3 linked regions of the Homo sapiens genome follow. The protein of the gene in region 3 interacts with the protein of the main gene of each other region in a pairwise test. Each region holds a gene or a part of one and is shown on either strand. Other genes may lie near its edges.

Region 1 (10,209 bases), on a different chromosome or scaffold from region 3:
CTTTTGCCAGAAAGATTAGGCAAGAAGTGGTGCCCCCTTCTTGCTGGGGTTGCTAAGTGAGTGTTCGTCTCTCCTTCCACTTGTGGGGGATCCTGTCAGAGCGATCCTGGCAATGCAGAACTGGAGATGGTGACAAGTAGTTTCTTGACAACATCATTTGAGGGCCTAGATACAGCCAGTCCTGAAGCCATATGTGCTCCAATCAATCCTTTGCCTTTTAACTAGTTTGAGTTTAGTTTCTAATCCTAACTGAAAGAGACCCATTCCACCAATTTTACAAGGGACACAATGATAATTAAATGTTAAAGAAGGAAGAGGCCTTAAAGGCTGATAAAGCAATGCATGAGAAGTGCTTGGGAGGTAGGATGGGACAGTTACCCTATGTGGGCACAAGCCCAGATGCCTGGGAAGAAGGGACCGATCATGTAGACCTCAGCAACAGTGGGTAATGCTTAACCCAAAGAAGTGCTGTCCACTCTAGAAGTGGAATTGAGGGCCCTGCAATGTCAAACCTAAGCATAGGCTCAGTCCTGATAGGATGCATTCTAATACAGCCTTGCTACTCCACGTGCAGCCTGTGGGCCTGCAGCTTTGACGTCTCTTGGAGTTTGTTAGGAATGCAGAATCTCAGGCTCCACTCCAGACCTACTAAATCTGCATCTTAACTAGACCCCAGATGGCCCATGTGCATGATCAAAGTTGAGAAGCACTACCACAGCACTGTTGAAGTGACTGTGTAGCGTGTCCATAGACCCCTTCCTGCTGGTATGAACATCCTGCCCACCCACCAGGAAGTGGACAGTTTCCCCTCCCCTTTTATCTGGGCTCTCGCCCTATGGCTTAGTTAGCCCGGTAGAAGGTGATAAAAATGGTGCTGCCAGTTCTGGGCCTGGCAGCCTCTGCTTCCTCTCTCAGAAGCCAGCTGGGGACAGTGGTTCACACCTGTAATCCCAGCACTTTGTGAGGCCGAGGCAGAGGCCTGAGGTCAGGAGTTTGAGATCAGCCTGGCCAACATGGTGAAATCCCATCTCTACTAAAAACACAAAAATTAGCTGGGCATTGTGGCAGGCACCTGCAATCCCAGCTACTCAGGAGGCTGAGGCAGGAGAATCGCTTGAACCCAGGATTGGGAGGCGGAGGTTGCAGTGAGCCAAGATCACACCACTGCACTCCAGCCTGGGCAACAGAGCAAGACACTGTCAAAAAAAAAAAAAAAAAAAAAGTCAGCCTACTTGCCCTGAGACCTCCATGCTGTAAGAAAACCCAGACAAACCGCATAGAGATGTTTCTTGGAGAGCCCAAAAGTCCCAGCTGTGTGAGTGAGGCCTTCTTGGGCCACCCTGTCCAGCCTAGCCCCCAGCTGAGTGACCCTCAGTGACACAATGTGGAACTGAGTCCTGCTCACATTCCAGACCCAGAGAATTGGAAGAAATACGAATCTTTGCTGTTCTAGGCCGCTGTGCTCATGTTATTTTGTCACACAGCAGAAGTTACTGGGGCCATGACCGCCTTTCCTCCTCACTGAAGGAGGGGGCTGTCCTGCAGAATGTTCACACACTGTAAGCACCATACTGAGCACTTTCTGCCTCTCAGGCGCTGTTCCAGGCACAGAGATGGAGTGGGAGAGGGCAGACTGCATCCCTGCTCTGGTGAAACTGGGATTTTTATCCAGGGATAGGGCAGTAGACAAGAAAACACACAAACGTAACTTCAGAGAGATAAGGAGCAATTGGAATGGGGCTGGGGACACAATTAGGTAGAATAGGGAAGATCTTTCTGAAGACACACACTTGATCTGAGGCCCTCCTGTTGAACAGGGGCAAACCATAAAATGATCAGAGGAAAAAGTGATGCCGGCAGAGAGAACAGCAAATGCAAAAATCAAAAAGCACAGGAGGTCTGGGAGTGAAGGCAGAGGGAAAGGGAAAGCCAGGAGAGGGGAATGAGATCAGAGATGAAGTCACAAAAGTCAGCAGGGCCCAGAGCAGCAGCGTCTAGCACACCGCCACCAGCCACCGATGGCTATGTAATCTAAGCTTCCATTTAAACAACAAGCGCAGCTCCTCAGTCCCACTGGCCACATCCCAAGTGCCCAGTGGCCCTGTGTGCCTAGTGGCTATCATATGAGACAACACAGAGACAGAATATTCCCGTGACGGTTCTGTTGGCTGAGATGGCTATAGAATAACTCAGAAGCAGATCAGAACCAGGGTTCAAGGTCAGACCATGTGTTCTTGGGCTTAGTATTCCATTAAATTTCTGAAGGTTCCAGTTTTCCCCAGGGTTAAATGAGGCTTTTCCAGCCCAACAGTGGGTCCAAATTATCCACAGCAAGAAGCCAAGTCCACAAACAGTTGCACACGGGTCCTATCCAAGGAGCATCAGCAAGGCCTCATCCATGGAAACTGGCAGCAGAGGTCTGTGTAACTGACTTCTTTGCAACCTCATTTAAGTTGCCAGTTGGGGCTCCCTGATGTGAAAAAAGAACAGAGCATGGCTACTATTTCAGGGCACCACGCAGAAGGGAGAGTGCCACAATTAGCTGAAGCTGCTTTCGATTAGCAGATTTTCTTCCTTGGTGCATAACATCTGTCCGTGTATAGACATCGCTCCATCTTGCCCCATCAGAGTGAGGGGCCGGGCCAGTGAAACAGGCGGGCCCACAGGGAGTTCAGCATCCATCAGGGCAACGTCCAAGAGGAGCTGGAAATAGGCACTGTGGAACTTGGCACATCGATGGCAGTTTGCCTTAGGGAAAGGCTAAGAAAGGAGACCCTGCTTCCTCACACAAGCTGGGAGGCGGCAGATGGAGACATAAGTTTTCCTTGGGGTTAGAAAGACCTGCTTCGTCATTTAGTATTTATGACATCTCCACAAGTACCTGATCCTCTGGGGTGGTTACCTAACCATGCTCATCTGAGAAACGGGGCTGATGACACCCACCTCATGGAGCTGGGGAGGAGTAGGTGGAATAATCTCTGGAAACACACTTGGCATGCAGCAGGCATTTTGTAAATGGTGGCTGAATCATAATCTTGATAGGAAAGAACCAGGTGAATGAGAGAGATGGGCATGGGAACGTTTGATCAGCACTCAGAACTGGCTCCTCCATTTGTTCAGTCAACACAGGTTAACTCTGCAAATTGGCTCTGGAGCCTTGGAAAACTCCCTCAACCAGCCTGGGTTCCTCTTTCCTACCTGGGGCCCGTAGCTGATCTCTATGGTTCTTCCCAGTTCTCCTTGCCTAACAGAAAGTTTGCAGCCGTCCTTAAGGCGTGACCCACCTGAGTTCAATCGCAGAGGGTGGGCAAAGTACTAACACCCAGAAACCTACAATCTTGGATTTGGAAACAGCCTTTAAAGGTCTTTTGGTCCAGCTCCCAGCTGATCACAAGAATCCCGTTCCCTTCCATGCTGATGGAAGAGCCGTGGCCTGCACACTCTTGCTGCCTTGCAAAGCAGCCCATTCTCTTTTCAGAGAGCTCTAATGTTGGGGATAGTCGATAGAGAGTGAAGGCATGCTCCAGGTTAATGACCCTCTTTAGACGTGGCACCAGCACAGAACAGTCTTCAGTTTCTATGTCTGTAGAATGAACCTGAGAACACCTGCTTCACAGAGGTCGGAATTAAGAGCAATAACATAGCTGGTGGGTCTGGCACGGGAGGTTCAGCGTTTGCTCCCTTTCTCCTCTCCAAATTAAACCTGCTGCAGGACGGGGACCACAGGTTGCTCTAGCGCCGGCCCCTCTACTGTCTTTTTTCCTTTTCCAGTGGGGCCTAACATAGGCTAAAATGTTCTTAGCATGCTTGGTGAACCATTGGCGTCTTGGATTTGTGTGTGAAGCAGAGGTTGGCTTCAGCCCATCACATATAAAACTAAGGAGGGATGGCAAAGCCTAAGGGTAAAATATTTCTCTGATCCACCCCCCACCACCTCCCTTTCTACCTTACACAGTCAAGGAGAGCCAGGAGCCTTCTTAAAATCATGGGGTCCCTATAGAAGCCACTCCTTTGTGGGAGAAGGGACGCAGCTGCAGCTGTGTGGACGTGTTGGCACTCACAGATGGTGAATGGACCGTAGACAGACTGTGGGAAAACACGAATGGGCCATGGTAGGGAAGGCAGCTGTGCCTCCTGGGGCCCAGAACGGGTCCCTACTGTTTGTTATAGAAGGCCTTGAGTCTCAAACCACCCTCAGCCGAGTGCAGGTGGCCCATATGGAAAGAGCCAGCATCCTCTTTGAGAGATGGCTTTGGCCTCTGTCCCTGTCCCCGCTACCTTAGATTTTGCCCACTTTCCTGGTGTTCTAATCCATCTCCTTATTTCCCGTCACGATCCTAAAGCTCTCTTACTGTCCCAAAAGGAAAGGAAGTGATTTGATATACCAGCAGGTCACCAGGAGGTGGATTTAAAAACAGCCAAAGCAGGAAGGCCTCTTACAGAAAGGAAGGACCGTCGTTCACATTTTGGACGGGAGGTGGCTGTGTCAGCTACCTCTGCTCATCCTGCTATGTGGTGTGTCATTTGGCCAATGGCTGTCCCTGACCTCAATTAGGGCTAGAAGTGATGCTCTAGTGAATTTGCCATCTGAAAGCCTGGCCTCTCTGCTCTATTAAGAACACAGGTGACCTTTGCCCAGGGAGCTGGTGCAGGTGGCAAGCCGAGTCTTAGGGGAGACTAGAGTACCACCTCCCGCAGATGGTGACACAGCAGGAAGAGGCTGGGAAGGGGTGTGTGCATCAGGTGAGTCAGCTTTCCTAGGAAGAGTTTGGGGCTTACCTGGTGAACTCCTGTCCACCGGTTTGGCTCATCTAAACCTGTGTGAGAATGAGACCTTAAAGTGCTAAGACAGCCAGCTGTTGGCTGTATCTCCTTCCATGCTGCTTGGGAAAGTTCTGAATACTCACCAGGTGCTCCTGATAAGCCAGTGGCAGCTGGCAGTTTGTCTCAGTCACCTTGGATCTGGAACTGCAGGCCAGAGGTTCAGCTTATGTCTTAGGCCCATGGGGCAAATCAGTCTCAAGATCCTGAATGGACTACATTGTGATGTCACACCACAGGTCGGGGGTGAGCACAAAAAGGGCTGCAGTGGCTGCTGGCATCAGGGCACAGGGCAGGGCAGGAGCAAGAGCCTCAGGCCTCTCCAGAAGAAATCAGCCTGTCTGGGTGCTGTTCTCAGCTGGGGTTGCTGGGAAAGAGTGAGGGATGTCTGCTGTACAGAAAACATCAGCCTGGAAGACTGCTTATGAATCCACCTGCTGCCACTTGCTGCCACGGTTCCTATTCTCACCTGGCCTGCGTCAATTCAGTTAAACCAAGTCCATCCTTCATGCAGTTTTCCTGCACAAAGTGACTTCCGTGGGTACCCCCAGCTCCTTGCACATCTTCTGTGATGGACTTGAAATTCCAGGGCAGCTTTTTCTTCTACCAGTATACCCGTGACTTTCCCCCTACTGCCCACCTGGTAGGGACTCAAGGAAAGAGAAGTAACTTAAATATTAGCTCAGGAAAACAAGCAGAAATATAAATCCTCCCACCTTCAAGTTAAATTCAACACAGGTGTCTTTTAGGTTATCCTCTATAGCATATATGCCTGGGCTACTTTCCATTGTTGGTAATTGATAACTTGGTACAATGTATATTTACTAAGCCTAAAAAGAAAAGAAAAACTCAAAAAAGGGGGCAAAGTATAAAATGTTTCCAGAGATTCCATTCCCTTTTGCTGCTGGTGCTTGGGATTGGGGATGGAGGAGTTCTAACCAAGAGCAAACGGCTTCGCTTTGGAAACTGTTGGGTGGCCCTAAATTTTAGAGTCCAAAACAGTGGGTCTTAAACTGTAGGTTGCATTAGAATGACCTGGAAGACTCGTTAAAATACAGATTCCTGGGCCCCACTCTCAAAGTTTCTGACTCATTAGGTCTGGGGGAGAACCCAATAATTCACATTTCTTACACGTTCCCACATGACGTTGAGGCTGCTTGCTCTGAGACTACACACTTTAAGAACATGTAAGGGTGCTGGTATCTTAGGTTTGATCCTGAAATAGTATTGCCAGCTGATGGCAGTATTCAGGGGTTGCTGGAGAATAAACAGGAGCTGTAGCTTTGGGGCCAAAGCTGGCTGAGCTCTCTGGGTTCAACCAGCACGCTTTACTGAGGATCTATTCATTGCCAGAACTGAGCCACGTTTTGGGGAAGCACAACTGACGTTGTCAGTGCCCTGCCCATAGCCTCTTGGCCTTACAACTTCATTGTACAAAGGTAATCTGACTCCCAGCTGCCAGTACCTGCGTATCTTTGCTTGGGGGCTTTTGCCAGCTGCTGGAGTCCACCCTGCCTACAAGCGGGCAGCTGCAAGTTGCAGAATGTCCTCATTCAATGACTATTATCAGTTGGTAGATAAATAACCCAGCTCCCTCCCTGCTCAGGTGGAATAACCTGGAGTCATGTCCTGTTCCATGTCCCAGAGGACCCACAGGACCCACCCGTAGGTGCCTATGCTAGGCCATTCTCTTCCTATAAAGAAATATCTGAGGCTGGGTAATTTCCACAGAAAAGAGGTTTAATTGGCTCACAGTTCTGCAGGCTGTTCAGGAAGCACGGTGCCAGCACCTGCTTTGCTTCCAGTGAGGCCTTAAGGAGCTGACAATTATGTCTGAAGGTAAACAGGGAGCCAGTGTATCACATGGCAAGAGTGGGAACAAGGCAAGGGAGGTACCACACACCTTTTTTTTTTATTATTATTTTTTATTTTTGAGATGGAGTCTCACTCTTGTTGCCCAGGTTGGAATGCGATGGCGTGATCTCGGCTCACTGCAACCTCCGCCTCCCGGGTTCAAGCAATTCTCCTGCCTCAACCTCCAAAGTAACTGGGATTTACAGGCACCCACCACCACTCCCAGCTAATTTTTTTGTATTTTTAGTAGAGATGGGGTTTCACTTTTTTGGCCAGGCTGGTCTCAAACTCCTGACCTCAGATGATCCGCCCATCCTGGCCTCCCAAAGTGCTGGGATTATAGGCATGACCCACCGTACCCGGCCGGGTACCACACACTTTTAAACAGCCAGCTCTCACAAGAACTCACTATCATGAGTACAGCACCAAGACATTCATGAGGGATCTGCCCCCAGGACACAAACACCGCCCACCAGGCCCCACTTCCAACATTGCAATCACTTTTCAACGTGAGATTTGGAGGGGACGAATATTCAAACCATATCAGTGCCCACAGTGGCAACTGGCTTGCTAACATACCCCACATTGTTGCCCCCATCCCCTGCCTCACTTCCCCGCTCCCCTACCTATGTTTCCTGGGATCAAACTGCAAATAAACTGCTTCCACTCAAATCCTTGTTTCAGGGTCTGCTTCAGGGGGAACCCAAACTAAGACTTTGTAAATAAGAAATGATGTCTGTTCTTTGTAAGTTCACATTTAGATGGAGAAACTATATAAATTGGCTTGGTATAATTCAGAATGTCTGGGAACCGGTGAGTGTCAGGTCTCAGGGCAGATGGAGGTGTTCTGCTGGTTGGCCTTTGGAGTATCATTAGGAATGTCTTGAGGAAACACATGAGCTGATATGCTCAGGGGGAGGCCTGGCAACCTGGCCCAAAGGCCTTTTCCTCTGCACAGGGAGGCCTGAATGTGCTACCCCCAGGGGACTGATTTGCTACACAAATTCCACCTGCTTTCCATCTCCCTGGACAATTCCTCCTGGAATAAGAATATGGAGGTGGAGCTAGCACCATATAAAATATGGCTCTTGTTCATGCTTTTGGGGGAGTTTCAGGTGTTTAGAGAAGGCTCGCTAGGGATATCTGCTGGCCTGTTAGGATTAATATGCTTTCCTAGGTGTTCTGCTCAATACCATGCTACACCCAGCCTCACACCTGCACTGTGGTAGGATTAATCCAACTCTGCCATAGCTTTTGCAGGGAGCCTTAGTTTCCACCCTAACTCCTTCCACATTCTCCTCCCCATTATCATCATCATCACCATCATCATCATCACCATCAGATCTCTTAGAGATCCTGCTAACACACTACAATCCAAATGAAAACACCATGTCGAGAAAGTACTCTTCAAGTCCAGTTCCCATTCTTCCAATCAGACACGGCATGTACTGAAATTCTGGAACTGCCACTGAAAAGATCCAATCGCGGCTTGGCTGATCATTCACACAAATCATTTCTTTAGCAACATGGCACCCAGAGTTATTTTCCTCCACATTTCAACTTGGCTAGAGGAAGAATGAAGCCTACTGTACCAGAGCATTGCATCAATAACAATATCAATATTTTCAGCATTACCCAGGACTCAAAAAATGGCCTCAAACAGTCTTTAGTTCTGCCTCCAGACAAAGAATTACAACTATAAAAACACTTACCTGGGAAAAAATGTTCGACATTATTAGTGATAAGGTAAATGCAAATTAAAACCTCTACATGCCCACCAGAATGGCTAATATTAAAAAGAGCAACAATACTAAGTGTTGACAAAGATGTGGGGCAACTGGAACTCTCACATAATGTAATATAATATAACCACTTTGGAAAATTGTCTGGTAGTTTCCTGTAAAATTAAACATAAAGACCTACCCTATAAGCTAGGATTCTACTCCTGGGTATTTACCCAAGACAAATGAAAACACATCTACAAGCTGGGTGTGGTGGTTCATGCCTGTAATCTCTGTAATTTGGGAGGCCAAGGTAGGAGGATCATTTGAGGCCAGGAGCTCAAGACCAGCCTGGGCAATATAGAAAGACCCTATCTCTACAATAAATAAGAAAAAAGAAAACATGTCCATAAAAAGATTTGTGCAGGAATGGTCATAACTTCTTTACTCATCATAGCCCCAAACCAAAAACACCCAAATGTCCATTAACAGGTGAATGTCCATTAATAGGTGAATGTATATTCTTATAATGAAATATTAATCAGCAACAAAAGGAACAAACTCTTGATGCATATATGATGACATGATAAACCTTGAAAACATTATGCTGAGCAACAGAGGCCAGACATAGAAGAGTACACACATGGTTCCTGTTATATGAAGTCCTGGAATAGACAAAACTGATCTGAGGCTACAGAGATAAGGTCAATGATTGCCTGGAGTGGGGGATGGGGGAACAGGTTAAATGGCACAGGTAACTCCATGGGATGAAGGGAATATTCCAGATCTCTATCATGGCGATGATTACTCGGGTGTATACATTTGTCAAAATTCATCAACTTGTACACTTAATGTGTGAATTTTAGAGCATGTAAATTACACCTCAATAAAGGTGACTATATACACATATATGTATGTGTGGTGTGTGCATATGTAATGTGTAATACACACACACACACACACACCCTAGGTTTTTCTAGGGGAAGAAACTGGAAAGAATACACTAAAATGTGCTAGTTGTTATGTTTCACAGATGAGATTATAGGTAATTTTTGTATCTTCTTAAATTTACCAAAATTTTACCTATGCGACTCTACTTTTTTTTTTTTTTTTTTTTTTTTGAGACAAGGTCTTGCTCTGTACCCCAGGCTGGAGTGCAGGTTTGTGAACATGGCTTACTACAGCCTTGACCTCCCAGGCTCAAGCAATCCTCCTGCCTCAGCCTCCCGAGTAATTACAGGCATGCCACCATGCCCAGCTAATTTTTTTTTAATTATTGTTTGTAGAGATGGGGTCTTCCCTTTGTTGACCAGGCTGGTCTCAAACCCCTGGGCTCAAGCAATCCTCTGGGCTCAGCCTCCCAAAGTGCTGGGATTACACCATCACACCCAGCCTTACTTTTTAAATAACAGAATGAAAAATGTTCATTTTTTAAAAATTTCAAGCTGCTAAAGGCAAGTGCTTATGGTGGTCTATAAAAACTCTGGAGTTTTGCAAACAGAGTCCTTGGTCAAAGTCCCTGTCCCACTACTTCCTCGTTTTATGACCTAAAGGAAGTTACTTCCTGAGCCTCAGTTTTCTTATCTATATAATCAGTTTGTTGGGATGATTGAATTAGGATAGTGTATGTTCAAAGCCCTCTGCAGGCAGGGTGCGGTGGCTCACACCTATAAGCCCAGCACTTTGGGAGGCTGAGGCAGGAAGATTGCTTGAGTCCGGGAGTTCAAGACCAACCTGGGCAACCAAGTGAGACCCTGTCTCTACAGAAAATTTTAAAAAAATTATCCAGGCCTGGTGGCACGAACCTCTATTT
Region 2 (10,055 bases), on a different chromosome or scaffold from region 3:
GGATAAACTAATACATGTGCTCCAGTTCTTACAATAATATTGTGGAAAGGTACCATTATCATTTCCATATACCAGATGAAAGAGCCAGTGTTTAGACAGACTGAGTAAATTGGACACAATTCAAGAACTAGAAATTCTCCATCTAGGTTTGAACTGAGGCTGTCTGACTCCAAAGGCTGTGTTACTGAATCACTACATAGTCTAACAGCATGTTACACTGGCTCCATTTCAAACATAAACGCAAGATAAATGATTGGTCAGTGGTTTTCCCTTTTCCCAGCTAGCCAGTGCTTTCAGGTTGCTTCTGAGGAATCCAGAACTTTTTATCATGGATCTGCTTTGTGTATAGTCTATACTCTGACTTTTCCAGACACTGTCTACCAAAACTTGCCTGACTTTTGTCCTCCTTTCTCAGAAGTCTGTTACCCAATTTTCAGCTTCTTGTATAGCAGCCTCTAAGATTTTTCTTTTTCTGTATACCACCTATACTATTACTTAATTTCTCATTGACTCTCTTTTAATGTTTACTGATTTTAAGAAACATCAATGAAAGTATTTTTTTTTCCTTTTTTTTTTTTTTTTTTTTGAGGCAGAGTCTCACACTGTCGCCCAGGCTGGAGTGCAGTGGCATGATCTCGGCTCACCTGCAACCTCTGCCTCCCGGGTTCAAACGATTCTCCTGCCTCAGGCTCCTAAGTGGCTGGGATTACAGGTGTGCGCCACCACGCCCAGCTAATTTTTGTATTTTAATAGAGACAGGGTTTCACCATGTTGGTCAGGCTGGTCTCTAACTCCTGACCTCGTGATCCGCCCACTTCAGCCTCGCAAAGTGCTGGGATTACAGGCCTGAGCCACTGCGCCTGGCCAAAATTACATATTTAAGCTTGCTTATTTTTTCCCAGTATACACTAAAACAAACATAGCTATCTAAATATACCTTCATGTAATATATAATCATCTTGCATACCACTCTGACAGATAATATCATCCAGCTTGTCTGAAACTAGTCGGATTTGAGGCCCTAATGACTGATAATGATGTGCTTTCTTCCCCCTCTGGTTGTTATTTTTATTTTTGCAATAGTTTTCATCACCTAAACAAAAAAGAGTAATAAAGGGAGTATTCAGGACTGAGGTAAGGCTAATTATAGAGATGGCTTTTTTTTTTTTTTTTTTTTTTGGTGGAGCAAAGAGTACATTAGTGAAATATTTTGTTTTACTGATTTTCTCAAATCACTTATGCCAAAATTTGGATTTTTTTAATACCTTTTCTTCTCTTATTTTTCACATTTAATTCATCAAGTTCTAAGAACTTGACCTACAAAACATCTATGACGCTACTGCCACTCCAATCCAGACCTTCATCATCTCTTTCCTGGACTACTGCTGTAGCCTTCTGACCAGGTTGCTTGCTTCCATTGTTTCTCTTCATGCCAGTCATTCTTCACACAGTAGCCAAGTGGTCCGCATCATAGTGCCTCCAGATTGCTTCTGAGGCATCCAGACCCACCCCGATTACTCATGGATTATTTCTATGTTTATTAAACAAGGTGTGTCACTAGCTGTTAAAAGATGCCTAACCTTGGGCAAATAGGAAACTCCAATAGTATCATCATTCAGTAAGTTTGGTTCAATCAGTTCAATCAGTGATTGTTTTTAGAAAGAAAATAACTTTCAATTTATGACTTTTTTTTTTTTGGCTTTAGATAGAAAAACTGAAAGTGGAATTAGATGAAGCCAGGCTTAGTGAAAAGCAGCTGAAGCACCAAGTAGATCATCAGAAGGAACTCCTCTCTTGTAAATCAGAGGAACTGCGCGTAATGTCTGAACGTGTGCAGGAAAGCATGTCTTCAGAGATGCTGGCTCTTCAAATTGAGCTGACAGAAATGGAGAGTATGAAGGTAATTTTTATGGCATGTGTTTCTCAGGGTTTTCTCTTTTTTTTTCTGGCATATTTTTACATGTTTTGGTAATAATTCTTAAGAGCTAGTTTGAAGGCTGAAACATTTTTTGACCTAACTTGCATCTAACTAATTAAAAAATGGGTTTTTTTTAGGTGGATGACTTCATTCATAATATAGCTTTAGACTATATGATTATGTAAGGCAGCCTTTCTCTTAGATTAATGAAACGTCTGGAAGAATTTAGAGGCATATACTCTGATCCCAGATTTTATCGTAAGAGCCCAGTGTAAAACGTTGGCTCAGTGGAAGTTGAAATGCATGTGAACTTGGTTTTTTCATTGAAAGCTAAGGTTAATTAAAAATTAAAGCCTGAAATTGATAGAGGAAAAAGGGCAGTCTCTAAAGCCATTTGTTTCCTTGTTGAAAAATTTAACAGTAATAGTAATTTCTATTATTTTAGAATGTACCTGACAACTTTTGACTGGTTCTTTAGTTTTAATTTTGGATGTGAACCACAACTGAGATAAACTGAGCAGCTGCCAAATGAAAGATTATTCAAGAGAATTTCCTCCTTTTCAATTCCTGTTAAATAGACCACCCTCAAAGAAGAAGTGAATGAACTACAATACAGACAAGAACAGCTAGAACTTCTTATTACTAACCTAATGCGCCAGGTAGACCGGCTTAAAGAGGAAAAAGAGGAGCGAGAGAAAGAAGCAGTTTCTTACTATAATGCCCTAGAGGTACTATGATTACAGTAACATCATGTTTTCCAATTTATCATAACTTATTTTCTTGCTAATGTAATCTCTGTTGCCTAAATTGTTTTCTTTTGAATTTAGAAAGCTCGTGTAGCAAATCAAGATCTTCAGGTACAGTTGGACCAGGCACTCCAGCAAGCCTTGGATCCCAATAGTAAAGGCAACTCTTTGTTTGCAGAGGTACTTATAAGTATCCTAACTACTAAATTGGTATTTTCATTTACTACCAGAACAATTAAGCATGTTAATATTTTGTAGGTGGAAGATCGAAGGGCAGCAATGGAACGTCAGCTCATCAGTATGAAAGTCAAGTATCAGTCACTAAAGAAGCAAAATGTATTTAACAGAGAACAGATGCAGAGAATGAAGGTATAGAACTTTCACTATCAAAGGTTTATTAAACAAATTTTGTGTCAGCATTACATGTATGAATACATCAAAGAAACTAGCTTTTTCTGCAAGGAGTGTACTTATATAGTTGTTTCTAGAACTGCATGATTTCAAAAAATCAATTTTGAAATTAAAAGATTCATTTATAGTTTAAAAATCTTGGAATAAATATTTAGTAATAGTATATTTAGCAATGATTATTGTTTGTTTTAATGGTTACTCACTAGCTTTGACTTAAATCTTTCTTTGTGGAGTAGAAGAAAGAAAAGTATTTATTTCTTATTCTTGGCCTGATGTCTTTCCAAGCATAGCCCTAGGGTTCCTACTTCAGCTGAAACTCGCTGCCTCACCATTCCTCTGCTCTTTCACCAAGGCTTATTATGGAGTGAAATTTGGATTATTCAGGGTTCCCTTTCCTTGTAGCTCCTCAAGTCAAGCACATAGACCCTTTTAATTTTACGGGTTTTGTTGGTTGTCATTCTAGCCAAATAAGAGGTAGCAGAAAAACATGTGGGAATTAGAAAGATTTCAGTATTGTAACAGTCCTTAGAATCCTGATCCCTCATCCATTGTGCCTCACTCTACTGAGGTAGTAATTGGAATCTGGAAAGGCTTCCTTCCTTTTATTCAGAATCATGGGCTTTGCCAAAGAAATGGGAAAGGTTAATGATTAAATTTGGGAGTTAGGTGGATTTGGGTTTGAATCATAGTTTTGTCACTTGCTAGCTCTGTGACCTTGGACAAGTATTTTAACTTTGAAAGCAACAGTACCTCATCTATTAAGTGAAGATGATAGAACCCCCTCTTAGAATTGTCCTACAGTTAAATGAAAGTGTAGTAAAATACTTAACCTGCTACTTGGCAAATGAGTGTTTAATGAACAACAGCTGTGAATTTTATTTCTAAGGGTTTCCAGACTGTGCTGCCTCATTTCCTGAGACTCTCCCCTGTCTGGGAAGTATTTCTTTATAAATTTTCTCACGTTTACTTTAGTTTTCTTACAGTATTTGTTGGGGTTACTTTTAATCTACCAATGTTGCATATGTCCCAAACTATCTTTAGAGACTAGAAGCATTCTGAGTCTTAGGCTAAGTGGGCCTAGCCTCCAATCTGAAACAGGAACAAAAAGGATATCCTTTAAAATGTTAAAAGTCATCTGCAACCTCATATCATTGATTGTTTTACTCAAAACTATATTTAAACTAATAGGCACTCTTTTCAACTCCAGAAATTTCCAAAGGCAGAAAGAAATGCTAGATTTAGAGTCTACTTAATTTCCCTCTGGTAGCTTCACAACTCCAGATTTGGGGTGGGGGAGGTATAATGAGGTAAGTTGAGTGCTGCTCTAAAAAAATTAAAACATGGTATATTGAAGATTACCCCAGTATACTAAGATAGCCTTTTATCTTTGCTTTTAACGTCATTTGTGAATCTAACATTTGTGGCTGTCAGTAGCTTAGTTTTCCTCACTTAATTAAAGTTAATTAAAAATTTTGAGAAACCCATCAGAACCTTAATAAGAGCGAGTGCTTATGATAAGCAGTCTGCAGCGTTTGGCCAGGCTTACTTACCAGTTCAGTGGTGTGCTTTCAGACCACAGCCATGCAAGTCAGTTTTATGTTTCACAAAAGTACAAATAATTACATTACAGACTTCAGTTATCATTCATAAGTAGTCAAAATAAGTATTCAAATGTTATGTCTACAAAAAAATTTATTATTAGATTAGAAATAGCTAATTTAGTTTCCAAAATGAGTTCAAAGTAATATAGTACAAATTATGAATTGTATCAAAAAAGTAGTTATCAGAATCTTTCTCTCACTTAATTTTATTAGAGGGGGTAATTTTATTTTTCTAGTTACAAATTGCCACGTTGCTACAGATGAAAGGGTCTCAAACTGAATTTGAGCAGCAGGAACGGTTGCTTGCCATGTTGGAGCAGAAGAATGGTGAAATAAAACATCTTTTAGGTGAAATTAGAAATCTGGAGAAATTTAAGGTATGTATAACAGTTAAAAAAACACACATCCAAATTTTGATTTGAATATCTTAAAATTTGGTTTGTTTTTTAAGTTTAAATTATTAATAAATATCTTGTGGGAGATACTTTGAGACTAAGTAAATGGCTGTTTCTCCTTATACTTAAACATCCATTGGTGATTCTTGCCTGAAACATAATTCTGTGATGATTGCTAAATGGGTAATTCCATCACTTCTTCTATATTTATTAGTTGGAATTTTAGTAAAGGGACAGAAAAGAAAAATCTTTTTCCTCACTTACTCATTCATTTATATCAGTATAGCCTCATGGATTCTTATTTTATCCTATGAGTTATAATCCATTGCTTGCTTTATTTACTCTGATACTCAAATTGTCCCAGATTTGATAGTCGAAGTGCTCTTACTTGAATATTTCCTTACTCTATGGCACAACAAGGGTTTCCTAGCTCACCTGGCCCACTTCTGGGATTAGCATTTCTTCAAGGAACATTGGTTTATTTTAGTTGAGAATGGTATTTGTGTAAGCATTTGTGTGTGTGTGTGTGTGTGTGTGTGTGTGTGTGTAAGAATTCACCCATGTTTTCTAAATAAGTAGGCAGTTGTCCCAGAGTCATTTGTTAAAAAATCAATCTTGATCCCAGTGATTTGAGTTGACACCTTTATCATACATCAAGTTTCCATATATACTTGAGTCTGTTTCTAAATTTTCTGTCTACGCCATTGGTCTGCTTCTCTGTGTGTCTGTACCACACTGTTTTATTAATTATAAAGGCTTTTAAGTATGTTTATCTGGTAGGACTATTTCCTCACTATACTTTTTATTTTTCAGTATTTTCCTGTCTATTTTTGAATGTTAGCTTTCATTTACAAACATCTTGTCTAGCACCAAAAAAAGCTTGTTGGCTTTCTATTAAAATTGCATGCAATTTAAGATTTTATAAATTGACTTAGGGAACATTGATATCTTCATTAACCTCCTAATGAACTAAAGTTCTAAATGACAAATTTTTGTAAATGTTAATAACCTCTTAGGCATTCTAAATTGTAGCCATTAGTATGTCATAAAATCTTAATTAAGTTTACATAACTTTATTTCTGTGTCTTATAAAAACTGTTGAAAGAACTACAAATTTGGTTAAGTTGGCAGCCTTATGTTTCCATCAGTGGGCTCAGAACTATACTCTGAAAATTATGGCCTTAAATCAGGGGAATTTTATTTATAACCTGAAATTGTTTCAAGTTTTTAAGCAGATTTACCTTTTCTATCCCACTAGAGAAATGTATAGTTTCCATCAGTCTCAGAAGAGCTTGCACTACATTCTTGCCTGGGGTGGGGGGAAGAATCTCAGAAGAGGGGGACACCAGATATAAATGTAAGGCTCTCATCTTCCTTTCATATTTTTCCAGTTTATGGTTTTGTTACAAAGGCCAGAATTTAATCCAGCAGGCATTTGTTTTTCTATTTTCAAAGCCAGGAGAGAGAAGGCAGAGCATGTAGGTAAGGCTAGAAGCCTAGGCCTTGTAGTCAGATTTGGGTTCAGGTTCTCTCTTCTTGGTTTACTTTCATCTGTATTCGGAGCCTGTTTCCTTATCTGTAAGAGAGGAATGTTAATTATTTACCTACTTCAGAAGGCAGATAAATTAAATGGGTAGTTCTTAGCGTAGTACGCCAAGGGATATAAATTCAGGAAGTGATGGTGCTATTATTAATAAACATACACTAACCTTATTTGTTATTTATTTTAAGTAATACAAACTTTTGCTTTTTTAAGAATTTATATGACAGTATGGAATCTAAGCCTTCAGTCGACTCTGGTACTCTGGAAGATAACACCTATTATACAGATTTACTTCAGATGAAGCTGGATAACTTAAAGTAAGTGTCTGGGTTGGTGGATGGAAAGATGAACATGTCACTTGCTTACTATGGTAGTGTCAGTGACTACAAAGTTTTTTTGAAATTGCCAAAGGAAATTTTCCGAAAAGAAAGGTAACAAAAATATCTTTGTGCAGATATTCATGTGTGAATACATTTGAAAGACTATTTCCTCCTTTGTCCATTTCCTTTCAAGAATGCATGAGTATTTTTTAAATTTAACACTACTATTGTTAAGGATTATTTAAATTGTTTATTGTTTCTTTGTTACTAAAAACCCCAGAAAAATGTATTTTTAACTAAGAATTCAAATATGCGATGAAATATTTATACCACTACACTTATTATATGCTGTCTTAATACTCGTTGGTTCTCCTTTTTTATTATCATAGCAAAGAAATTGAAAGCACTAAAGGTGAATTGTCCATACAGCGAATGAAAGCATTATTTGAGAGCCAGCGGGCTCTAGATATTGAGCGAAAACTTTTTGCAAATGAAAGATGCCTCCAGCTTTCAGAAAGTGAAAATATGAAACTGAGAGCTAAACTAGATGAATTGAAACTAAAATATGAACCTGAAGGTATATATGTCTCATATATTTTTGTCTTTTAAATTATGAGTAACCTGAAATTATATCAAATTATTTTCTTACTGTAGTTTTATGCAACTCTATTACAAACTCATTTGTAGTTATATACCTATAGTTAATAAAGCAAATTTATTGTGTAAAATAGGTAGGAAAATTCAGGGAGAACTGGATACTGGGTGTGCCTGAATATAACATGTATCCTTTTTGGATATCTAATTTCATCATACTGTATAGTAGAAACTTGAGATTTGAGACTTTCCCATTTTAAGATTACAGTATTTTATGTCATACCTAATAGTTTAATTATGTTGAAGCAGCTGATGTTTGGAAGCTATACGAGGTAGGACTGTTTATAGAAAATCTAAAGTAATGGAGACTTTAAAAAGGTGGGTCTTTATCTCTGCCTCTGATGGAAGTCTGGAGGAGGCCTTCCAGGACTGGGAAAGCACTCCACGGTATCAAGATTCAGGCTTCTTGTGTTTGTTGGTCTGCTGCCATCCTGTGGAGCAGAATTTAGTCATGCAGCCTCACCTGCTGACAGGAAGGGCTGAGAAATGCAGTCTTGATTCTCAGGGGCCATGTTCCTAACTAAATATTGGGAATTCTTTTATTAAGGAAGAACAGTGAGCCAGGCGTGGTGGCTCGTGCCTGTAATCCCAGCTCTTGGGGAGGCAGAGGGAGGAGGATAGCTGTGCCCAGGAATTTGAGATTTGCTTGGGCAATATAGCAAGACCCCATTCTCCACCAAAATGGGGGGGAAAGGAAAGAACAATGAAACATATTAGGGAATATCTAGCAAGTCTAATGACTGAGCTGGAAAGTAGCCTAACCATACAGTCTCTGCATCTTATATACTACAGAGAGTGAAGTTTACTGTATGTAAATTCAAAAACAAAAGGCCAAGTGTGAAGGAGTCTAAGAATGTGATGGTTCTACAACACCCCTTCCCTAAAAGAGTGTTACATGTTTTAGGTTAAGGATTCTCAACAAGTTTTTGTCCCCGCACTCTGCACATGCCTCAGTCTCTCTTCGTATTGTCTCAGTGAACTGCTATGATTCTCAACAATAGTGGGGAGGTTGCCAAAAATAGGAAGGTTTTTACACAATTTTAAAAGGCTTCTCTTGCTCTTAACTCTTTTTGTTTCTTCCATGATTCTAATAGGCTCCCCTGATTAAGAATTATCCATTATGAATTTCAAACATCTGTTGAACTGAACACAGCAAATAGACAGGAGGCAGGGTAGTGAATCCTGATAATGTGGGTTTCAAAGGAGCAGTGCCAGAAAAAGGGGAAATCATGGTCTAAAAGCAACAATGTAGAGCAAAAACAGCAACCCCTTGTGCTACCAGTGTTCCTCAGACTCCACTAACATTTTGATTTTGAAAATGAAACACATCGATAATGGGCATAGGGAAAAGATATTAGAGCAGTTAATTCAGTGGCTGTGTTTATGACCTGTTTAGATAGAATGATATTAGGCCATGAGGATAGAAGGCATTGCAGTAGTCTTTGATGAGACATGATAGGATTGGACTAGGGAAGTATCCATCATAAAAGTAGTCTGATTCTGCTTATATTTTGTAGGTAGAGCTAACAGGCATATATTACCAATATTCAGAAAGTTTGGCCTATTCTTGTCATTTAATCCTTCTAATACACAATACCAAGTGAAGTGGGTGCTTTTAATCCCCATTTTACAGATAAAATGAAGCTCAGAGAGGTTAAATAATTCCCCAAAGACATGGCTGTCACATACGAGGATTAGGATTCGAACCTGGACTCTGCCGCTGTCTCTTCATCTCCACACTGAGATCTTATGAACCACCTTTTTCAAAACACCAAGAGAGAACAGTGAAGCATTCATGCCTAAAGTCAAAATATTGAATTCCCAAGGAAAAATATATAGCCAAATAAACTTTAAAATATATAGTTTATATAGATTCCATGATAAAGAATAAAAGGTAGAAACAAAGGATGCATTTCAGTGAGGAGATGGTTGCATTTTAAAAGAATGGAAAAAGGTATACATATAACTAGTTCTGGCTTCTTGTGTTGATTGTGTCTTTGTTTTCTTAGATTTTTTCTTTTCCCCACTCGTTTTTATTCTCAGAGACAGTTGAAGTGCCTGTACTGAAAAAGAGGCGTGAGGTGCTCCCTGTGGATATAACCACCGCTAAAGATGCATGTGTCAACAACAGTGCTCTCGGGGGAGAAGTTTATCGATTACCGCCTCAGAAAGAGGAGACACAGTCCTGCCCTAACAGTTTAGAAGATAACAACTTGCAATTAGAAAAATCAGTTTCTATATACACACCAGTAGTCAGTCTCTCTCCTCACAAAAATCTGCCCGTGGATATGCAGCTGAAGAAGGAAAAGAAATGTGTGAAACTCATAGGAGTTCCCGCTGACGCTGAGGCCTTAAGTGAAAGAAGTGGAAACACCCCTAACTCTCCCAGGTCAGTGTCCTCTTTTCCTCCAGGCAGCCAGCAGACCTCTCCATCTCTCCTCTCTCGCTGCATGAACTGTGCTGTCTG
Region 3 (10,059 bases):
TCAGGATACAAAATCAATGTGCAAAAATCACAAGCGTTCCTATACACCATTAACAGACAGAGAACCAAATCATGAGTGAACTCCCATTCACAATTGCTACAAAGAGAATAAAATACCTAGGAATCCAACTTACAAGGGATGTGAAGGACCTCTTCAAGGAGAACTACAAAACACTGCTCAGTGAAATAAAAGAGGACACAAACAAATGGAAGACCATTCCATGCTCATGGATAGGAAAAATCAATATTGCGAAAATGGTCCTACTGCCCAAGGTAATTTATAGATTCAATGCTATCCCCAACAAGCTACCAATGACTTTCTTCACAGAATTGGAAAAAACTACTTTAAGGTTCATATGGAACCAAAAAAGAACCCGCATAGCCAAGACAATCCTAAACAAAAAGATCAAAGCTGGAGGCATTACACTACCTGACTTCAAACTATACTACAAGGCTACAGTAACCAAAACAGCATGGCACTGGTACCAAAAGAGATATATAGACCAATGGAACAGAACAGAGGCCTCAGAAATAACACTATACATCTACAACCATCTGATCTTTCACAAACCTGATAAAAACAAGCAATGGGGAAATGATTCCCTATTTAATAAATGTGCTGGGAAAACTGTCTAGCCATATGTAGAAAGCTGAAACTGGATCCCTTCCTTACACCTTATACAAAAATTAACTCAAGATGGATTAAAGACTTAAATGTAAGACCTAAAACCATAAAAACCCTAGAAGAAAACTTAGGCAATACCATTTAGGACATAGGCATGGGCAAAAACTTCATGACTAAAGCACCAAAAGCAATGGCAACAAAAGCCAAAATTGACAAATGGGATCTAATTAAACTAAAGAGCTTCTGCACAGCAAAAGAAACTATCATCAGAGTGAACAGGCAACCTACAGAATGGGAGAAAATTTTTGCAATCTATCCATCTGACAAAGGGCTAATATCCAGAATCTACAAAGAACTTAAACAAATTTACAAGAAAAAAACAACCCCATCAAAAAGTGAGCAAAGGATATGAACAGACACTTCTCAAAAGAAGACATTTATGCATCCAACAGACATATGAAAAAATGCTTGTCATCACTGGTCATCAAAGAAATGCAAATCAAAACCACAGTGAGATACCATCTCACACCAGTCAGAATGGTGATCATTAAAACGTCAAGAAACAATAGATGCTGGAGAGGATGTGGAGAAATAGGAACACTTTTACACTTTTGGTGGGAGTGTAAATTAGTTCAACCATTATGGAAGACAGTGTGAAGATTCCTGAAGGATCTAGAACTAGAAATACCATTTGACCCAGCAATCCCATTACTGGGTATATATAAAAGATTATAAATCATGCTACTATAAAGACACATGCACACGTATGTTTACTGAGGCACTATTCACAATAGCAAAGACTTGGAACCAACCCAAATGTCCATCAATAATAGACTGGATAAAGAAAATGTGGCACATATACACCATGGAATACTATGCAGCCATAAAAAAGGAGGAGTTCACGTCCTTTGCAGGGACATGGATGAATCTGGAAACCATCACTCTCAGCAAAATAGCACAAGGGCAGAAAACCAAACACCACGTGTTCTCACTCGTAAGTGGGAGTTGAAAAATGAGAACACATGGACACAGGGAGGGGAACATTACACACTGGGGCCTGTTGAGAGGTGGGGGGGCTGGGGGAGGGATAGCGTTAGGAGAAATACCTAATGTAAGTGACAAGTTGATGGGTGCAGCAAACCAACATGGCACATGTATACCTATGTAACAAACCTGCACGTTGTGCACATGTACCTTAGAACTTAGAGTATAATAATAAAAAAAGTAGCTGTTGTACATTTTATCCAGAAAGGGGGTGTCTGTTATCTTATGGGTGACACAAAGACCTTGTTTTTGCCTATGCTTAGATAATGCTATGAAGTGGCCTTGTCTCATTTTATTGTGATCTCAGAGTACTTTTGTCTCAGCTTGGTATTCTATGAGATTTAAATTGTTAATGTTCAACAGAATAATATTATGGCCAAGCTGTGAGTGCCAGGTCAGCTTCTGAATATCAGGGGCTGCTTTTTGCCCTCTTTCTCAATAATAAACAAAGAGAACATATAAACAAAATATATAGAGAAAAAGAAACACAACCCCACAATAAAATGGGCAAATTGGCATAATCTTATTAATGTGAATACCTGCTTATTTTATAACCAGCAATTCCACTCCTATGTATCTATCTTAGAGATTTCTAGCAAGTTCCTAGGTGATGCTGATGCTTTGTGAACCACTGTCCTACAACAGGGTTTTTCAGCCTCCACACTATTAACATTATAGGCTGGATCATTTTGTATAATTTAGGCTGCTCTGTGCATTTTAAGATGTTTAGCAGCATCCACCCTCTTAATTCTAGTAACACTCCTGAGTTCTAATAATAAAAGTGTCTCCAGACATTGCCAAATGTCTTCTGGGTTTCAGGGGTGGGTGGGAATAGCAAAATTTCCCCCATCTGAGAATTACTGCCCTAGAAAAAGTCTTGGTCCTATACACTAGGAAACATTTATAGGTGTTCATAGCAACTTCATAGAAAAAAACCTGAAAATAAGCCAAATGTCTTTCAACAGGTATATACACAAAACAGAATATTATACAACAATAAAAATGAGTGAATGATAGCTATACATTGGATGGATGAGTGAAAAAAGCAAGTCAAATAATATCCTCAAGAAATAATGCTATTTTATACAACTTTTACTTTTTTATTTTTCTTTTTTCTTTTTTTGATGGAGTTTCACTCTTGTCACCCAGGCTGGAGTGCAATGGGGCATCTTGGCTCACTGCAATCTCTGCCTCCCAGGTTCAAGCGATTCTCCTGTCTCAGCCTCCTGAGTAGCTGGGATTACAGGCACCCACCACCAAGCCTGGCTAATTTTTTGTATTTTTATTAGAGGTGGGGTTTCACCATGTTGGCCAGGCTGGTCTCGAACTTCTGACCTCAGGTGATCCGTTCACTTCCATCTCCCAAAGTGCTGGGATTACAGGCATGAGCTACCATGCCTGGCCTTTATAAAACTTTTGAACAACGGAAACTGAATCCACTAGATAAGGATTCCTAGGTATGTGGTAAAACTATACAAACACTTCTCTACTTACAATGTGGTTACCTCCTGATAAACCCATCATAAGTTGAAAATATCCTATGTCAAAAATACATGTAAAACACCTAACCTACCAAACACCATAGCTTAGGCTACCCTACCTTAAACATGCTCAGAACACTTACATTAGCCTACAGTTGGGCAAAGTCATCTAACATAATAAGGTGTAATAAAGTGTCTAATATACCCTGTAATTTATTGAATACTGTATTAAAAATGAAAAACAGAATGGTTGTATGGGTACTCACAGCATGGTTTCTACTGAATGCATATAGCTTTTGCATCACTGTAAAGTTAGGAAATCAAAGAGAAACCATCATAAGTCAGGGGTCGTCTGTAAAGATAGGCACTAGAAAGGAGAGTGGTTAACTCTTATGTGAAGTTCATACAAGTGGGAGCCTTTTTGGTAACCAACAGAACTGATTACCACATAGTCACACTGTATGAATTAAAACGAAGGCCCGGGATGCACATTGTGTCTCACGCCTGTAATCTCAGCACTTTGGGAGTGTCACTTGAGGCCAGGAGTTCAGGTTACAGTGGACTATGATTATGCCACTGCACTCTAGCCTGAGTAACAGGGACTCAAAAATTAAATTAAAACAATAAATAAAATAAATAAATACAAATAAAATTAAATACAGAGGTTCTCAGAATGTGGTCCTCCCCACCACCACCAGCAATATTACCATCATCTGGGGACCTGTTAGAAATGCAAATTCCCAGTCTCCTTCTAGATCTATTGAACCAGAAGTTCTGGAAGTGGGGCACAGCAATCTGTGTTTTATCCAGCCTACCAGATAATTTTGATACACACCAAAGTTTGAGAACCACTAGATTAAGGGATGAGTTTTACTGGGGAAAGGGGAAACTTACAAAACCAAGAGAAAACACAGGTTTCCCCCTTCTCCCATCATCCCAAGGAGCAGCATGCTGGGGCCAGAGTAGTCTGCTGGATCCATGGTGTGGGTTTGCATAATAGGAGAGGAATCCCATCCTCTTGTTGCTCTCCTATTTATAGGGCACACACAAAAAGAATTTTGTCAGTAAGGAAACTACTAGAGCACCAGGCAGTCTGTTTACAGGCATTTATTTGTTTGTTTGTTTGTCTGAGACAGACTCTCACTCTGTCGCCCAGGCTGGAGTGCAGTGGCACGATCTCAGCTCACTGCAAGCTCCACCTCCCGGGTTCACGCCATTCTTCTGCCTCAGCCTCCCCAGTAGCTGGGACTACAGGCGCCCGCCACCATGCCCGGCTAATTTTTTGTATTTTTAGTAGAGACGGGGTTTCACTGTGTTAGCCAGGATGGTCTTAATCTCCTGACCTCGTGATGCGCCCCCCTCGGCCTCCCAAAGTGCTGGGATTACAGACGTGAGCCACTGCGCCCGGCCCGATAGGTATTTTTTGAAAAAGCCCATTATCCAGTATCTGGAGACCTTGGGTCAAACAGAAAGTTGTTGGAACTTGTGTTGGAAGAAACTGTCCATCCCATGAAAAGCTGAGTTCAGGTGTAGCCCCTCCAACTGTGAGCCAGAAGGTCCAGGTCCCACTGGCTGGTTGCCCAGGAAAATCCAGAGAAAACACCCAAGGTCGTTTCTGTTTGATTCTGGTCATTGCATTAAAGCGTGCAATCAGAAAGCATGAAGGAGACTGACAGGTGTATTAGTCTGTTCTCACGCTGCTAATAAAGACATACCCAAGACTGGGTTATAAAGGAAAGAGGTTTAATTGACTCACAATTCTGCAAGGCTGGGGAGGCCTCAGGAATCTTACAATCTTGGTGGAAGGGAAAGCAAACACGTCCTTCTTCACATGACCGCAGCAAGGAGAAGTGCAGAGCAAAGTAGGGGGAAGCCCCTTATAAAATCATCAGATCTCATGAGAACTCACCCACTACCACAAGAGCAGCATGGAGGTAACTGCCCCCATGATTCGGTTATCACCCACTGGGTCCCCACGTTGGGATTATGGGAACTACAATTCAAGATGAGATTTGGGTGGTGACACAGCCAAACCATATCACCAGGTTATTTTTTTCCTCTCTCTGTAATTTTCAGTGATAGATTTATACTTATTCCTTTTATTATTAATAGTTTATGTATGTAAATCCATAAATTATTTTGTTTGTAAAAAATATTACAAGTTTAAAGTAAAAATTTCAAAACAATCTCTATAGTACACAAGCATACTTATTTCCTTATTTCATATCCTGAGGTTCTTAGAGAGTGTAAGCATACATTATGGAGCAAAAATTAAGTATGATTTACTATTCGTAACCTAAAATTAATTACCTATAATTTTATTTACTTTTGATGTGCAAAATTCGAAATTTTGCCATTGGAAAAGGTTGCTTTCTATGTTTTCTTAACACCACTTTGGAACTTTAAAAGGCATTTAAAAAAATCCCTCATTCTAGTAGCAAGATCACTTAGGTCCACCTTAAAGGTTTTTCTTTTCTTTTTTTTTCTCTAGGAATTGAAATTCTCCAAGAACTTTTAGTTCTATTTAGTGGAGAATAGCTTTACAGACCAAACTCTAGGCACTAGGTGTTAAATGCATTAGTTATTTTACTATTTTAAATTTGGGCTTTCGGAAATGATAATGTGATTTAAAATTAAATGAGAATATCTAGGTAGAGGTCATGTAGAATGTGAAGTGACCCTGCATAATTTTCCTTTTCTTTTGGGTCCTAATATCTTAGATATATATTTATAGGGTATGAGCTTGATTGTTTTTCCTATTAGACTTGTTTTGGCACAATACCACTTATTTCATTTTTTTTTTTTCAAAACGGAGTCTCGCTCCATTGCCCAGACTGGAGTGCAGTGGTGTGATCCTGGCTCACTGAAACCTCCACCTCCTGGGTTCAAGTGATTCTCCTGCCTCAGCTTCCCTAGTAACTGGGAGTACAGGCATGCGCCACCATGCCTGGCTAATTTTTTTGTATTTTTAGTAGAGACGGGGTTTCACCATGTTGGCCAGGCTGGTCTTGAATGCCTGACCTCAGGGGATCTACCCACCTCAGCCTCCCAAAGTGCTGGGATTACAGGTGTGAGCCACCACACCTGGCCTAGTTATTTAATTAAAAAAAAAAGTTTTAAGGGACTCTTAAGGAGAACAACTATTATTAAAGTAGAATTTTGTAGGCTTAATTAATCCTTAAAGAGGATTAATAAGGGGAGAATATAAACAAACATGAAGGTTTGTTTTTGTGTCATCCACACATTTTTTAAACATTTTAAAATTGAGTTTAGTTTATAACTGAGTAGAGTTTAAAATGTTAACATTTTGTCATTAGATAAATGCAAATTCCTATTTGTATTTATTATCTATGCCAAAACATTAAACTGTTGAAAAAATGTATTAAAGTATATCAGTATATTTAACCACATTAATTTTGAAATACAATTAATATTATTCATGAAATATTAAACCATTACCCTGTACGTGTAGCGGGACGAACCACAGACAAGAACCCCTCAGACGACACCGAGTTGTGGAAGGAAAGGGCTTTATTCAGCTGGAAGCATCAGCAGACTCACGTTTCCAAAAACCGAGCTCCCCGAGTGAGCAATTCCTGTCCCTTTTAAGGGCTTACAACTCTAACGGGGTCCGCGTGAGAGGGTCGTGATCAATTAAGCAAGCAGTGGGTACGTGACTGGGAGCTGCATGCACCGGTCATCAGAACGGAATAAAACAGGACAGGGATTTTCACAATGTTTTTCCATACAATGTCTGAAATCTATAGATAACACGAGCAGTTAGGTCAGGGGTTGATTCTTAACTACCAGGCCCAGGGCGTGATGCTGGGCTATCTGCCTGTGGATTCCATTTCTGCCTTTTAATTTTTACTTCTTTCTTTGGAGGCAGAAATTGGGCATAAGACAATATGAGGGGTGGTCTCCTCCCTTATTCCCCCACTTTGAGAACCTCAGTCAATTAGTGGGAGTTCTCACTTTCATCCTCACTACCCATGTATTCTTGCAAGACAGATCGATAGTGATTCATATAGTACAGTTGTTCTGAAGCATTTTGGTGAACTAAGGTAGCGATGAAGCTTTTTATCATTTGAAGAAGTACAGGTAGCAAACAAGGGAGCAGTAAGCAGGTTCCTATTACTAATATAACTCCTATTATAAGAGTTTTAAATCCTCCTAACACTGGGAACCATTTTCCAAACATGGCCCCAGGATCAAATCCATGCCACACTTGCATGGGCACATGTGACAGTTTTATCATATCTCTGACTATGTCTTCAACTACTTGCCCTTGATCATCTACGTGTAGACAGCAATTAGTAAGGTTAAATTTCCCACAGACCCCTCCTTCAGCTGCTAGCAAGTAGTCAAGAGCCAATCTATTTTGATAGATAGCATTTCTCATCTGAGTCTCTTGACAGGCCAGAATAGTCAAGGCTCTGTCGGTTTTATTAGTGATTCTTTCTTTCTTTTCTTTTTTTTTTTTTTTTTGAGATGGAGTCTCACTCTGTCGCCCAGGCTGGAGTGCAGTGGCACAATCTCGGCTCGCTGCAAGCTCTGCCTCCCAGGTTCACGCCATTCTCCTGCCTCAGCCTCCCAAGTAGCTGGAACCACAGGCACCCGCCACCACCCCTGGCTAATTTTTTGTATTGTTAGTAGAGACGGGGTTTCACCATGTTAGCCAGGATGGTCTCAATCTCCTGACCTCGTGATCCACCTGCGTTGGCCTCCCAAAGTGCTGGGATTACAGGTGTGAGCCACCGCGCCCAGCCCATATTAGTGATTATTTCTAAGACAGCTTGTAACCATATGATTTGGTTGAGCATGTAAATGGGGGTCTAGTATCCCCATGAACCATCTCGTCCCCAAGTAGCAGGTCCATAATATTGTATGATTCTCTCTGGGGGCCATTCATTATCTTTCCAATTTCCTATAGCTATGCTTCTTTTTTCATGGGAAGCATAGACAGGGAAGCCCAGGAGTTCGCCTGTCTTTATGGACAGTAGGAAGAAAGATGGTTTAATAGTGCCAGTAATACAACTACCTGCCCACTGGCCAGGTAATTTAGCGTAAGCTCTATGCCCACATAGCCAGTATAATCCAGTGGGGGCTGTCCAGTCCTAGTGGGACTCCAGGTGGGTCCACATGGTTTGCAACCTTGGGAATTTACTAAATGGATTCCTTTCTGTGTGATTTGAACTCCACCAAGTGACTGTTTTTGTGGTACCATTATACAGTTTCTGTCCCAGACAACTAAGTTGTCCTAAGGGGTGAGTGAATTATTTTCCTTCTCTAGCTATGCAATATTGTCCAATAATTGAGGCTTCAGGGTCCAGAAATTATCAAGGTGACTCTTTTGAGCTGGGAATTCATTGGGAACTGGGTCTGTAGGTACTAATTCTTGGGCTTCCCATGGCCATTGATCTCCCATCACAGTTCCTCCACATACATAACATGAAGTGACACTGAGAGACTGGGCTACATGCTTGGCTAATTGCAAAAACAAATTTCTTGTTTTTCCTGGAATTTCTGGTACTGGCACATTTAGTTCATCTTAGAAAGTTTGAAACACTGGCTGAGCAGAGCGTTTGTAAACTTCTCCTCGAACTAAGATATTTACTCAAGGATCCAGTCCTGCCCCATCGATTCCTAAGGTCACATGCTCCCCTCTTTTCCAGCAAGGATCAAGGGGATTGGTTGTTGCTAGCTCTAAGGGGTTACATTGTCCCTTAGTACAGGAAGGGCCACTTTTTCCTTTCTGAAGTGGACTGGATCCTTTTCATTTTTTTATCCAAGTGGCCTAAATGACACAAGACCAGTGTTCACATTCATTTCCACACAGTCCTAATTCATGACAAATGTACTTATTTTCAGTCATATCGCCTTTTTCCCAAAAGAGCCACATCCCTTTCCTAATTTACTGCCACTAATGACAGCACAGGCATCAAATTTCAAGATTATGTGTTTGGGCACCCCTTTCTCTTCTGTTCTGGCTATTACTTTACTTGTATCATTTACGCGTCCCCACTAGTCTTCAGCCCTTAATCTTATTTCAAAAACCGTCAGCCACAAACGCCGGCCCATTATCTAAGCCAATTCGTAAGGGCAGTCCAAACCTAGGAATAAGGTCTCAGGGAAGCACACGGGTTACTTCGTAGGCCTTTTCAGTTTCGTGTTGGATAAGCTCAGAGGGGTCATAACACACAGCTGGCCGGTCGTTTCCTAGGCTACATACCTTGTACTGAGTGTCAGTATATAAACATGTTCCTTTTAAAGTTCCTAGGCATTCACAGTAACTATAGAACAGAAAGATTGTTTTAACTTGTTGCCTTACCTCAGTAACCTGATGTATACACTGAGAGCAGTCCTCCATGCGGGGAAAATCAGTGGAAGTTTTTACTATACAAGTCCAAATTATAAGGAAAATGAGTCCCACGATGATTCTCCTCATGCTTCGGCCGTGCGTAGACCAGTCAGCTTCCGGGTGTGACTGGAGCAGGGTTTGTCGGCCTCCTCAGAGTCACTTCGCAGGGGTTGTCCGGGCTCGGTTTTGCCTCCCAGGTTTCAGCGGCTGCCAGTTTCACATGGCTGTGGTGGATCCAGGCTGGGATTCCTTCTACCTTTACAGCCGTGGGGGTGGTCAGGATGACGGTCTGAGGTCCTTTCCACCATGGCCGCAAAGGGGCTACGTTCCAGTCCTTGATCCACACACGATCAACTGGAAAGAAAGGATGAACTGGGGAGAACAAGCTGACAGGACACCTCTCATTTACCCAAGTCGAGATTGTCTGTGTAATTTTTCCCAAAGCCTGTAGCTGTCGCTGTAACTCAATGTCACCTAACTCTCGGGGAGTGCCTGGAAGTCCCCGTAGTATAGTAGGAGGCCTATGATACAGTATTTCATAAGGGGAGT

What was found.
Region 1: the proteins of DNAAF4 (region 3) and BANF2 interact in binary tests that used the Homo sapiens proteins (3 or more experiments, as listed by UniProt).
Region 2: the proteins of DNAAF4 (region 3) and SPDL1 interact in binary tests that used the Homo sapiens proteins (3 or more experiments, as listed by UniProt).

Annotation. Positions count from the first base shown.
Region 1 is NC_000020.11:17,694,754-17,704,962, reverse strand, and holds the start of BANF2 (barrier-to-autointegration factor-like protein), read right to left. Parts: upstream 4,998-10,209; 5' UTR 4,908-4,997; intron 1-4,907. UniProt on the Homo sapiens protein: May play a role in BANF1 regulation and influence tissue-specific roles of BANF1.
Region 2 is NC_000005.10:169,591,649-169,601,703, forward strand, and holds part of SPDL1 (protein Spindly), read left to right. Parts: intron 1-1,705; coding exon 1,706-1,900; intron 1,901-2,496; coding exon 2,497-2,646; intron 2,647-2,745; coding exon 2,746-2,844; intron 2,845-2,922; coding exon 2,923-3,033; intron 3,034-4,912; coding exon 4,913-5,053; intron 5,054-6,827; coding exon 6,828-6,931; intron 6,932-7,323; coding exon 7,324-7,511; intron 7,512-9,631; coding exon 9,632-9,977; coding exon of another isoform or gene 9,978-10,055. UniProt on the Homo sapiens protein: Required for the localization of dynein and dynactin to the mitotic kintochore.
Region 3 is NC_000015.10:55,504,079-55,514,137, forward strand, and holds the start of DNAAF4 (dynein axonemal assembly factor 4), read right to left. Parts: upstream 4,157-10,059; 5' UTR 4,044-4,156; intron 1-4,043.